3 linked regions of the Homo sapiens genome follow. The protein of the gene in region 3 purifies or fractionates together with the protein of the main gene of each other region. This does not show direct contact. Each region holds a gene or a part of one and is shown on either strand. Other genes may lie near its edges. The genes, in order: MINK1, CPNE2 and PRDM15.

Region 1 (3,722 bases), on a different chromosome or scaffold from region 3:
AACATGTCAGCACCAGTGCCCAGGCTAGGGAGGGGAATGACTCTTAGGAATGTTCTGGGCCAGGCAGGAGGAATTTGGGGGAGGCCCCAAGCTCTGCAGCAGGCTCTGTTTTGAATGATGACCCAGAAGGGCTGGGTGCTCTGTAGCATCTGGGGTTCTGGGAGGGGTCTGGGCCCTGTTATCTCCCACAAATATTTTGGTTCTGTTGCTTTCCCAGGAGCTGTGCTCAAAGGCAGGAAAATGGATGGACGGCCTCCCCACGGTCTCTCTCCCCTTTGCCAGGATTATATTTATTTATTAAGAGCCGATCGCACAGTGTGAGACACTGGTTAGGGGAAGGGTTGGGGCAAACGCCAGGACCCCTCCCCACAAAACACTCAAAGGATGAGATGCTGCAGTTCATGGGGGCTGGAGTGCGGGGCCATCCATGAGGCAGGAGGCCCCTCTGGGTCCAGGGACAGGGGAGGCTGGGTAGACCGGAGGGAGGGTAGCTGGCAAGGAGAGATGCTGGGCACTGATACTGAGTCCTAGTGAACAGCCCGGAGACAGGGATTGCGGGGAGGGAAGGCGGGCAGGGGGGCGTTTCTCACCCAGAGCTGGTCATCGTTTCCCGGGGGGCTCTTCTTGATGAAGGCTCCGTAGTAGGTGGCGATGTTGCGGTGGTGAGAGTACTTTTTCAGCATGTTGATCTCCTGTTTGATCTCTTCCTCCTCGTCCTAAGCAGATGGGAGGAGCTGAGCCCTGAGACTCCCCCAACACTCCCTTCTCGCTGGTCCGACCCTCCCACTGCCCAGCTCCACTCCCTACCTCCGTGACATCCATGACCTTGATGGCAGCCAGCTGCCCCGTCTTGACATGCCGACCCTGCGGGACAGAGGGATCTGAGTCTATGCTCAGAGGGTGGAGCGTAGAGAGGGCTTGACTCTAGGAGACACAGCTTTTTTTTTTGAGACAGGGTCTCGCTCTGTCGCCCAGACTAGAGTGCAGTGGCGCGATCTCGGCTCACTGCCTGCTCCACCTCCCGGGTTCACGCCATTCTCCTGCCTCAGCCTCCCGGATAGCTGGGACTACAGGCATCCACCACCTCGCCCGGCTAATTTTTTTGTATTTTTAGTAGAGATGGGGTTTCACCGTGTTAGCCAGGATGGTCTCGATCTCCTGACCTCGTGATCCGCCTGCCTCGGCCTCCCAAAGTGCTGGGATGACAGGCATGAGCCACCGCGCCCGGCCCGACTGTTTTCTATCTTACAAAGTGCCCCTCAGCCGGGCGCTGTGGCTCATGCCTGTAATCCCAACACTTTGGGAGGCCGAGGCAGGCGGATCACTTGAGACCAGGAGTTCGAGACCAGCCTGGCCAACATGGAGAAACCCCATCTCCACTAAAAATACAAAAAATTAGCTGGGTGTCATGGTGGGCGCCTATAATCCCAGCTACTCAGGAGGCTGAGGCACGAGAATTGCCTGAACCTGGGAGGCAAGCCGAGACTGTGCCACTGCACTCCCACCTGGGGGACAGAGCAAGACTCCGTCTCAAAAAAAAAAAAAAAGAAAAGAAAAAAAGCAAGTACCCCTCATTGTGGCTACACACCTCAGTGAATGTGCTGCTCATGGGAGTGGACAGAGAGCGCTCCTGAGCCATCATGGCCAACAGAAAAACCACCTACAGTGGACTTCCAAGTTACAGGCTCAATAAAGGCGAAGGGTCTCCTCCCATAAAAACTCAAGACAGATGAGGGAGAAACATTTATGTTCTGTTCCAGCCTCTCTGGCTTGGACTTTCTACAGTCTGAAAGTTAGAGCAGGGCGTGAAAGATACTTCTCCACCCTAACGGAGGATGGAGGCAGTAGGAGAAGGAGGCTAGGGAGGGAGGGGCTTTGCCTCACCCTCTTCTCCTAAGCAAGAGAAAATGCTGCAGTGCTTTCCTGACTCACCAACTCTGGACAGGAGGCCTCTCCCAGAATCAACTTCACCCACAAAGCTTTTTATTCTTGTCGATAGGGAAAGAACAGAGACAGAGCTGAGATTTTAGGGAACTCAGAGAAACACAGAGGGGCCCGCCGACATGTGCTAATGCTCCTGTCACCAGCCCTAGTGGGAAGAAACTTCCTCTTCTTGAGTGTGTCCCCAGCCATTGCCCTCCTCCCCCAACATCCTTCTGAAATTCCCAGTGGGAGCATCTAAGGCTTGGAGAGGAATGCCCAAAGGCTTCCTGGGGACGAGCAGGATGGAGGAAGGTGGCCCCTCATGGGGATGGACTGGCTTTGCCAGCCCATGGGTAATTTTTATCCTCAGCCATTCAAGACCCCAAGCCCAGAGACGCAGGAGCACATGGCACCACTATTCCCATGGCAACAACAAGGCAAGAGATTGCGGGTGGGGTGCCTGTTTCCCCAAAGTTTGCAAGAGAAGGAGTGTAAGAGAAAGGCAGGTGGTCTCAGCGACACAGGAAACACGGGGCTAGAGATGTAGAAGAGACTTGTGACAGTATCAAGCACTCTGTCTGGAGATGAAAAAGCCACGGGCCCCAGGGGGCTCCAGTCAGAGGCAGCATTCACCCTGAGCATCCTCCCTCCCTGCTGGAGCAGCTCCCCCCATCCAAGTGTGAGCAGTGGTCAGGCCACCTCACTCCCTGCTGCAGCGGCTCCCACAATCCAAGTGTCAGCAGTGGTCAGGCCACCTCACTCCCTGCTGCAGCGGCTCCTCCCAATCCAAGTGTCAGCAGTGGTCAGGCCACCTCACTCCCTGCTGCAGCGGCTCCCACAATCCAAGTGTGAGCAGTGGTCAGGCCACCTCACTCCCTGCTGCAGCGGCTCCCACAATCCAAGTGTGAGCAGTGGTCAGGCCACCTTACTCCCCGCTGGAGTGGCTCCCCCCATCCAAGTGTGAGCAGTGTGGTCAGGCCACACGAGAGGGCTGGGCTGGCCAACCTAAAAGCTACCATCAGTGGCTGAGAACCTGCCACTTCTGTCAGGGACAGAGGCAGCTCAAAAGCCAAAAGCCTGAGCTCTGGCCCCAGCAGGCCAGCTGTGGGAGCAGAGGCCACATCCCCTCTGCAGAAGGCCACCCATTAGGTCCCACTACCTCAAAGTCCTGGGTCTCTTTGTGGTCTGGGGAGAGGCCAAACCCACATCTCTGGCCTTAGCTCTCTCTGAATCCCAGGAGAGTTCTGACACACAAGGCCGTATGCCCTTCCACCTGCTCTCACTGCTGCAGGCCACCCTGCCTGGCTGCTGGCCTGTTCCCACCATGTCCGGGACTGGCTCTGCACTCAGGTAGAGAGAGGCATCAACAGTACCTCCTTCTGGGTGCTCTTTCCTCTCCCCCACTCTACCTTTCCAGGGCCCTAGACTCTAGCATCTCCCATAGCCCCCTTCAGACCTGCAGACCAGGAATCTACTTCCTTCCACTCCTCCCAAGACTGCCCTGCAGATGTGGAGGTCATACTTCCACACCATTCGTCTCACCTTGTACACCTGTCCGTAGGTTCCATTGCCGACCACCTCCACAAGCTCAAAGATCCCAGCAGGGTCCTAGGGGCAGGAGACAGAAGAATACTGTGTCAAGACTTTAGAAAAGGATTACAGAGCTAGAGGGGGGTAAAGTGGTATCCAGTCAAGATATGGGAGTGAAGACCAGCATATCAGGAGGGCACGTGGCAGGAACCCTGGTGGCTGGCTGCCCTTTTCCTGGATTGGTTCAGAGTGAATGTTCTACGGGAAAA
Region 2 (3,500 bases), on a different chromosome or scaffold from region 3:
CTTCCTGAAGTCTACCCTAAGTCCCTCTGGCTGCACTAGTGGCCCAAGTCTTCAGGGAGGACCCTCACTGGGATGGGGGTGCAGAGGGAGCCAGCGGGGAGAGCCTTACGGTGAACATGAGCTGGCAGCCTCCCAGGATGTAGTCAAGGAAGGAGTAGTCTCGGTTTATCTGGAAGAAAGCGGATGAGTCAGTGGGTCCCCTTGACTTGGTCACACTCCCCATGGGGGAGTTGTTGCTCTATGTCCTGCAACCTCAGTAGGGACAAGGAGGTCAAAAAAAGCTGATGGGCCTGATCTAATTACAACAAAACCCAAATCTCTCTATAACAAAGCCTTCAGTGCAATGGTTCCTAATGGGTGGGGGACTCACAGAGACCCCCACACCCCACAGATACACAGACACATGCTGGTTCCAGGCAGGGTGCCAGGGCCCAGTGTCAGTTACCTGACACAGAGTGTCTCAATTTGTCACTGTTAGGTACTTACCTTCTCCTGGCCCTTATTAATCTACCTTTTTAACAAAGAGAAAGAGCAGGCCTCCAGCTCAAGGCCTTCCTCTAGAAGTTGTTTTGATGGTCTTTGTCTCTTTTTGGCAAAGAAGGCAGATCTTTTAATTTTGGTAGAGTTCTAATAATCTCTTTCTAAATAAATGTATTTAAGTTAAAAAAAAAAAAAAAGAGAAAAGAAACAGGCCAGGTATAGTGGCTCATTCCTGTAATCCTAGCAGTTTGGGAGGCCAAGGCAGGCAAATCACTTGAGGTCAGGAGTTCAAGACCAGCCTGGTCGACATAATGAAACCCCATCTCTACTAAAAACACAAAAATTAGCCAGGCGTAGTGGCATGCACCTGTAATCCCAGCTATTTGGGAGGCTGAGGCAGGAGAATCCCTTGAACCTGGAAGGCGGAGGTTGCAGTGAGCTGAGATCACGCCACTGCACTCCAGCCTGGGCAACACAGTGAGACTCTGTCTCAAAAACAAAAACAAAAAACAATAATACAGGGAAGAAAGACTGATTCAAAAAAATAAGTAAGGCAGGTGCCAGAAATTGTGAAAAGTGATGTGAATGATGGAAACTTCAGAAACAAGGACCATCCATCACAAGGCTGCAACCTGACATCTTGACCTTTAACGGAGTGCTTTTTTGTCGTGACACCACTGAATGTTCGTGTAAACCCTAGCCAGACGAGGCTCCAAATAAGGTGGGAGTCTGGGATCCACCTGCTGGTGGAGAGCAGCGGCCAGACTCCTGAGCTGTCAGGCCCTGAGCCCAGGTCTCTTGCTCTCCTGCCCCAGGCTGCCTTCCTTAATGTTCTGCCAGATCCAGCAGTTATTTGCCCACCAGGTCTTCTGGCCCCCACCCACAGCCTGGCCACTGCTGACATGAACTTCATTGCCTTTCTGGGCCTCAGTGGCCCCGGCTGTACCATGGGAGTCACAGTGACGCTGATGCCAGAGAGGACAGGGTGTCCCCACCCAATGTCCTCTGCCCCTTGCATGCCCACCGTGGGCGGCAGCAACTCGCAATGACAATTCTCCCACCAGGACAGGCCCTGGAAGGTCAGCTCGTGCCTTCCCTGGCCTCCACACAGGAATGTGAGAGAAGAGTAACCCTGGACATGCTCTGCCTCGTTAATATCTCCATTCCACAGATGAGGAGACTGAGGCCTGGTGAGGTGAAGCTCAGAAGGCCATAGGGCCAGGATGTGGCAGAGCCGGGATTTGAACACAGGCCTCGCTGGCTCCAGATCCAGTGCTCTGTCTGTCCCTTCTGTGTGGCCTGAAACCTGGCCCCTGGCTCGTGCTTGCCCACGCTGGTTCACCTTGCAGGATCGCAGGATGATGATGCCCGAGTTTTTATAGTTCTTCTTCTTCCTCTGCTTCTTGGGGTTGATGCACTCGAACTCCAGCTGGGCAACGCAAAAGAAAGAGACACTCACCTCGGGGCTTCTTTGGAAACAGATCCTCCTCCTTGGCCCTAGAATCCCTTCCACAGGCTTGACAATGGGGGCAGCATGCTTCCTCCAGGGAGCCTCCCAGGATGTCCACACCCAAAAATGGTAGCAGGATCAGCATCTGCCTCCCTCCTCCCCAGATAACGCACCCCCAAACTGTCCAGCTGAGGGCCCAACATCACGGAATGACTTAAATGGATAGCTCCTGACTGCTCACTATATGCTGGGCACTTCGCCTGCATCATCTCATTCAATCCCCACCCAAATCCTCTGCCCCCATTGACAGATGGAGAAACTGAGTCTTAGATTGAATGCCTTGCTCAAGGTCATGCAGCCAGAAGGGGGATCTCAGCCCCAGGCTGCCTGACCCAAGACCCGGTGCCCCTTCCCCCAGCCCTGCTGAGGTCTTGGGGTTACAGTACACGTGCCCATCTCACCGGGACGCTGTCTCGAGCCTCACACATCTGTGACACTGAGGTCTGGAACTCGCCGATGAAGTCATGGCCCCCGTCATTGTCATAGTCGTAGCACATGACCTGGGGTGGGTTCAGCACGGTCACCCCAGAGCTGTCCCCCAAGAGGTGCTCTCCAGCCCCTCTCAACTCCCCAAGCAAACCCTCTGTCTTCTGTTTGGGTAGTGCCTCTCCTCAGCATCTGCCTAGCTGGCCTGGATAGCTCCTGAACTGCCTCCTGCAGGAAGACTTCTGTGATTGCTGGGAAAAGGAGAAAGTGTGTCTGCCCCACTGATGGAGGCTGTACCCTCTAGTGCAGGCAACTCCACTCCTTATACACCTGGCAAATGGCTCCCCCTCCACCTCGGGTTGTGACCCACCCAGCTTATGGCCTGGGGCCCTCTCTAGACATATTTTTTTCTGAGATGAGCACAGAAATCACAGCTTTATATGCTGTCTGAGCTGCTATGGCCCTCCTAGGAGGAAGGCAGGGATTATTGTTCCCATCCCACTGATGGGTAAACTGAGGCCCTGAAAGAGATGTACCTGCCCAAAGTCTCACAGCAGCAGTAGCAGACCCAGTACTAGAACCTAAGATTCCTGGTATCCTACTTGGGAATCTCTGTCCTGACCTAGCTGTCTCCCCAGTCCCATCTGCTCTCAGACCCAGCCCCTGGGGACCAAGAGCTTTTATTTTTTATTTATTTGATTTTATTTTATAATTTTTTTTTTTTTTTGAGACGGTCTCTACTAAAGACCGTGAGAGGGTGGGTGAGAGGCCTCACGTGAGAGGCCAGGGTGGTCTCAATCTCCTGACATCGTGATCCACCCACCTTGGCCTCCCAAAGTGCTGGGATTACAGGCATGAGCCACCGCGCCCGGCCTATAACTTTTTTTTTTTTTTTTGAGACAGAATCTTGCTCTGTTACCCATGCTGGAGTGCAGTGGCTCAATCTGGGCTCTGCAACCTCCGCCTCCCACATTCAAGTGATTCTCCTGCCTCAGGCTCCTGAGTAGCTGGGACTACAGGCGTGCACCGCCATGCTCGGCTAATTTTTGTATTTTTAGTAGAGATGGGGTTTTCCCATGTTGGC
Region 3 (3,722 bases):
AGATCAATGCTAGTGGGTGTTTCGTCATGAGCCCAAAGCCCGTTGGGAGTCTCTGCGAGGTCATTTGCCCTTTAGATTCTGCAAAGGCAAAAAGAAATCGATACTGATTTTTAAAAATATATCTTAGGAGCCCTGGTCTCCTGCTGATTCCATGGATGCCTGGAGCACTTGTATCTGGAGAATGGAGACAATATCACCCCAAGCCCGAATTCATTTGATGAGACTACTATGTATAAAACAGTTAATTATATACATAAATAACATAAAATAATTCTCATAAATTAAAAGTCAAATGATCTCCCACTATTCATTCAACTGAGAGGTGAGAGCTAGGCGCGAGTGATGGTGGGTAAGGTGAGGAGGTGAGCCCCACAGACCCTCCTGCATGCTGCCTGGGGATGAACATTCCTTAGTTCATGAAGGCATATATTGCACAAAACAAATTCCAGCCCTGTCCTCAAAAGTCTGCTGTTTGGAGTGAAGTGCTGAGAAAGTTGCGTTTTGAAAAACACAATCATCCTTTGTTCTGCTGGCAACATCAGGACTGCTCCTGATCAATTACTCAGCCATGCCAGTGTTTCCTCAAGATGGACTCCCAGTGAGTGCAGGATCTGGGATAACTGGCAAAGCAGGACACCTTAAGGCAGGTTTGTCCTCTCACTGTGGCCACAAACAGAGTACCAGGAAAGTTAAGAGCAAACTTCTCCCCACACCTCTCAGTGTTTCTTGTCGTGGGCAGCAGGAGGGCTGGGTGCCTCCCCCAACCCTGGCCCCTGCCCCCGAAACTGGTACACAGACGTGACAGCACGTGTCCCCGCACACGCAGACCTGGCTGTTCACCGCACATTCAGTTTTAGGGGCAATTAATGCTTCTATTAGTGAACTAACCTCTCTGCTTTCATTACCACCTGGCAGGAAATAGCATTTTCTCTGTGTTTCAGAAATACCTACACTTTTCCATTGTAAAGAGCCAAACTCATTCAATATTTTTATAGAAAACTGGTCATGAAATACACCAACCTTTGGAATTGAAGTTTAAACAGAAGGAAAATATGACTTTTCCCCCGTTTCTTCCACTCGGGATTCTGGCTGGGCTTCAGCCAGAATGGATACATTTGGATTGCAGAGAATCCTGAGACAACCCGGAGGAGCCCCTGGGGGCAGCAGGGAGGCTCACTCCTCACACACAGCCGCGCGACCCTCTGCATCTGGGCAGCTGTGAAGGGTGGACAGGGACAGATGGTCCTACAGTGCACATGACTTTATCATGTTAACATAAAACTAAAACACAATATTGGCCATAACAGTCTTGAACACATAATGTATGTTTGAAATAAAGTTAAAAAAAAAAAAGGAAAAAAACTCTATTGGAAATCGATTCATGGATATTACTAAGATGCGTTTTGAGCTGGAGTCAGTGACCTCACGTGACCCCTTGCACATGATGACCGTGATGACCTCGAAGGTTGCAGGATCAGGTGCGGCTCAGCACGCCTCATGGTTTCAGCCCATAGTTGTATAAGAACCGACTCCACTCCTAGTTCAAAGAGAATACACGTTACTTTAACTTCTATGTGCTCGCTTGCAAAAAAATCCAGAAGTGAGGAGAAAATGTTCCCTGCTGCCTGCTGCCACCTGTGAATACTGTCTGTGTTCTCATAGGAACCGAGCTCTAAAAGAAAAAAGAAAATGAACCATTTGTGTTCCTAATAACTTATCTCCTGCCTCTTAAAATCCTGCTTCTCTCTCAGCTTCACTTTCCCGAACCCTGTGTCGGGCGAACACTGGTTCTGTAAGGGGAGGCAGATGCGGCCCCGGCCCAGGACTTACTGCCTTGGTAAGGCATGGTGTGGAGCCCCATCCAGTTTAAAACTCTGGCCTGCCAGAGGTCCCTTCTAGAGTTAAGCTGACAGACCGTAATGGTTGCTGGCGGGGGATCTGGAGATACTCTGCAAAGCTAAGTCAACCTTACATTGCAATGTATGACTTTTTGTTTGTTTGGTATCCAGCAAACACATCTAAACAAATCCCAAACATCCCTCTGCAGTTCTTGCCCCGAGTCTCCCGGAACGCAGCTCAGTAGCTGTACATCTGCTGCTGCTGCTGCTCCGCCTGCACCTGGGGCTGGGCCGCCTGCTGTGGGGGTGCCTGCGGCTGCGAGGGTGGCAAGACGTCAGTCTGGGGCACTGCCCGCCACGTGAGCGGGTGCTGGTCACTAAGCTGGCTCCCCAGGGGCGTGATGGAGTTGACCAGGGTCGTCAGGTTGATGAAATGGGCCACAGACTGTGGGTTCGAGGCTTCCGGCTGGGGGTGGATCTGGACGTCATTTTGGCGGTTGTGCAACATGGCAGAGCCGCTGACGGTATCAAAGGTCACGGTCAGGATTGAGTTGTCCAGCTGTAACTGGCGTTCAGGGGTGGTAAGGTGCCCCACGGCCACCGGCTGGAGATTGGTAAACTGAGTCGCGGCCGCAGTGGTGATGGGGGTCACGGTGATGTTGGTTAAGCCGACTGAGCTCGATGGTGTGGTCACATTTGGGTCACCCAGGGTCACCACTACCTGGAAGATTCACACACAACAAAAATCCGTTCATTTTTGCAAAATGGGGAACGCAAGGACCTCCCCAGGATGCGCTCTGTGTTACCACACCAAAGAAGCACGACATTCTTTGGTGAAAGAGGAAACCGAGTTAATTTTGTTCTGGAAAAATTCCAGCGAGAAACAAAAACAAGAAACAGACACAATCATGAAAGCAATGAGAAGGAACTAAGAAACAAATTAATTTCACTGGCTAGAAAAAAATAGAAAAAAGTAAGCACGAAAAAGACGGAAAACAGATGCTTCCTTTTCTATCCATTCCTCTGAAGTGCCCTGCTGTTGGTAAATGAAAATCCCACCACAAAGCTACAAAGAGCAATAAAGGTATTTGCAGTACCAATCGCTAATAAGAGAAAGCATTCTCTTTCATGGAGAGGGATGAAAGGCCAAATAAATGAGGAACTTTTGCAGTCAAGATTACCATCCCCCAAAACAAGAGAGAGAAGTGCAGTATTAGACACAGACTGATCAAACACTCAGAGGCTTCAAAAGCAAAAGTGACGAAGGCTGAGCAAGACAGAAGGTTCCACTCGAGAAAGTGGGATTGTGGGATTGTCTTCACCTTCCAGACTGAGGGATCCTTGCTCTCCGGCTAGTCAGCAAATGCACAGGGCTGAGCTTTCACCATAAGGGCACTTGGGTAGGCCACCCGTGACCTCCCCAAACTGCAAACAGCCTACCTAATTGCCACCCGGGCAGGGATATCTCTCTTCAACATGCTAGAATATATGTTGCTACTAACAATGACAAGCATGATTTGTAGGTCAGAACTCAGAAATGCTTACATGAAACATGCTTAAGTGAAAAACAGAATGTCTGCTGCCTTCAACCACATGAAGTCCACATGTACACTGTGTATAGTAAAAAGAGATGGAGTCACACACACGTAAGGCTCTCATGCTTAGGGAAAGTGACCGGCACCTAATCAGAACATAAAGCAGCAAACTGACCTGCTGAATGCTCTGTACTGCGGAATTGGTCTCGTCGCCTACACTGCCTGTGAACTCCGTCTCTTTCTCTGAGTATTCGCTGAAGGTGGCGTCCTCGGGCACCGGAGCACCCGCCTCCTCTTCTGGCTTCTGCTTTCTCTTGTGACTTCGCTTGGCAGCTTTCCCGTGCTTCCC

Evidence for each region.
Region 1: the proteins of PRDM15 (region 3) and MINK1 fractionate together in Homo sapiens (co-fractionation; one large-scale study listed by BioGRID). This does not show direct contact.
Region 2: the proteins of PRDM15 (region 3) and CPNE2 fractionate together in Homo sapiens (co-fractionation; one large-scale study listed by BioGRID). This does not show direct contact.

What each region holds. Positions count from the first base shown.
Region 1 is NC_000017.11:4,878,126-4,881,847, reverse strand, and holds part of MINK1 (misshapen-like kinase 1), read right to left. Parts: intron 3,532-3,722; coding exon 3,466-3,531; intron 865-3,465; coding exon 808-864; intron 735-807; exon of another isoform or gene 717-734; coding exon 591-716; intron 1-590. UniProt on the Homo sapiens protein: Serine/threonine kinase which acts as a negative regulator of Ras-related Rap2-mediated signal transduction to control neuronal structure and AMPA receptor trafficking.
Region 2 is NC_000016.10:57,120,083-57,123,582, reverse strand, and holds part of CPNE2 (copine-2), read right to left. Parts: intron 2,491-3,500; coding exon 2,392-2,490; intron 1,910-2,391; coding exon 1,823-1,909; intron 170-1,822; coding exon 110-169; intron 1-109.
Region 3 is NC_000021.9:41,799,164-41,802,885, forward strand, and holds part of PRDM15 (PR domain zinc finger protein 15), read right to left. Parts: coding exon 3,549-3,722; intron 2,560-3,548; coding exon 2,077-2,559; 3' UTR 1-2,076. UniProt on the Homo sapiens protein: Sequence-specific DNA-binding transcriptional regulator. Plays a role as a molecular node in a transcriptional network regulating embryonic development and cell fate decision.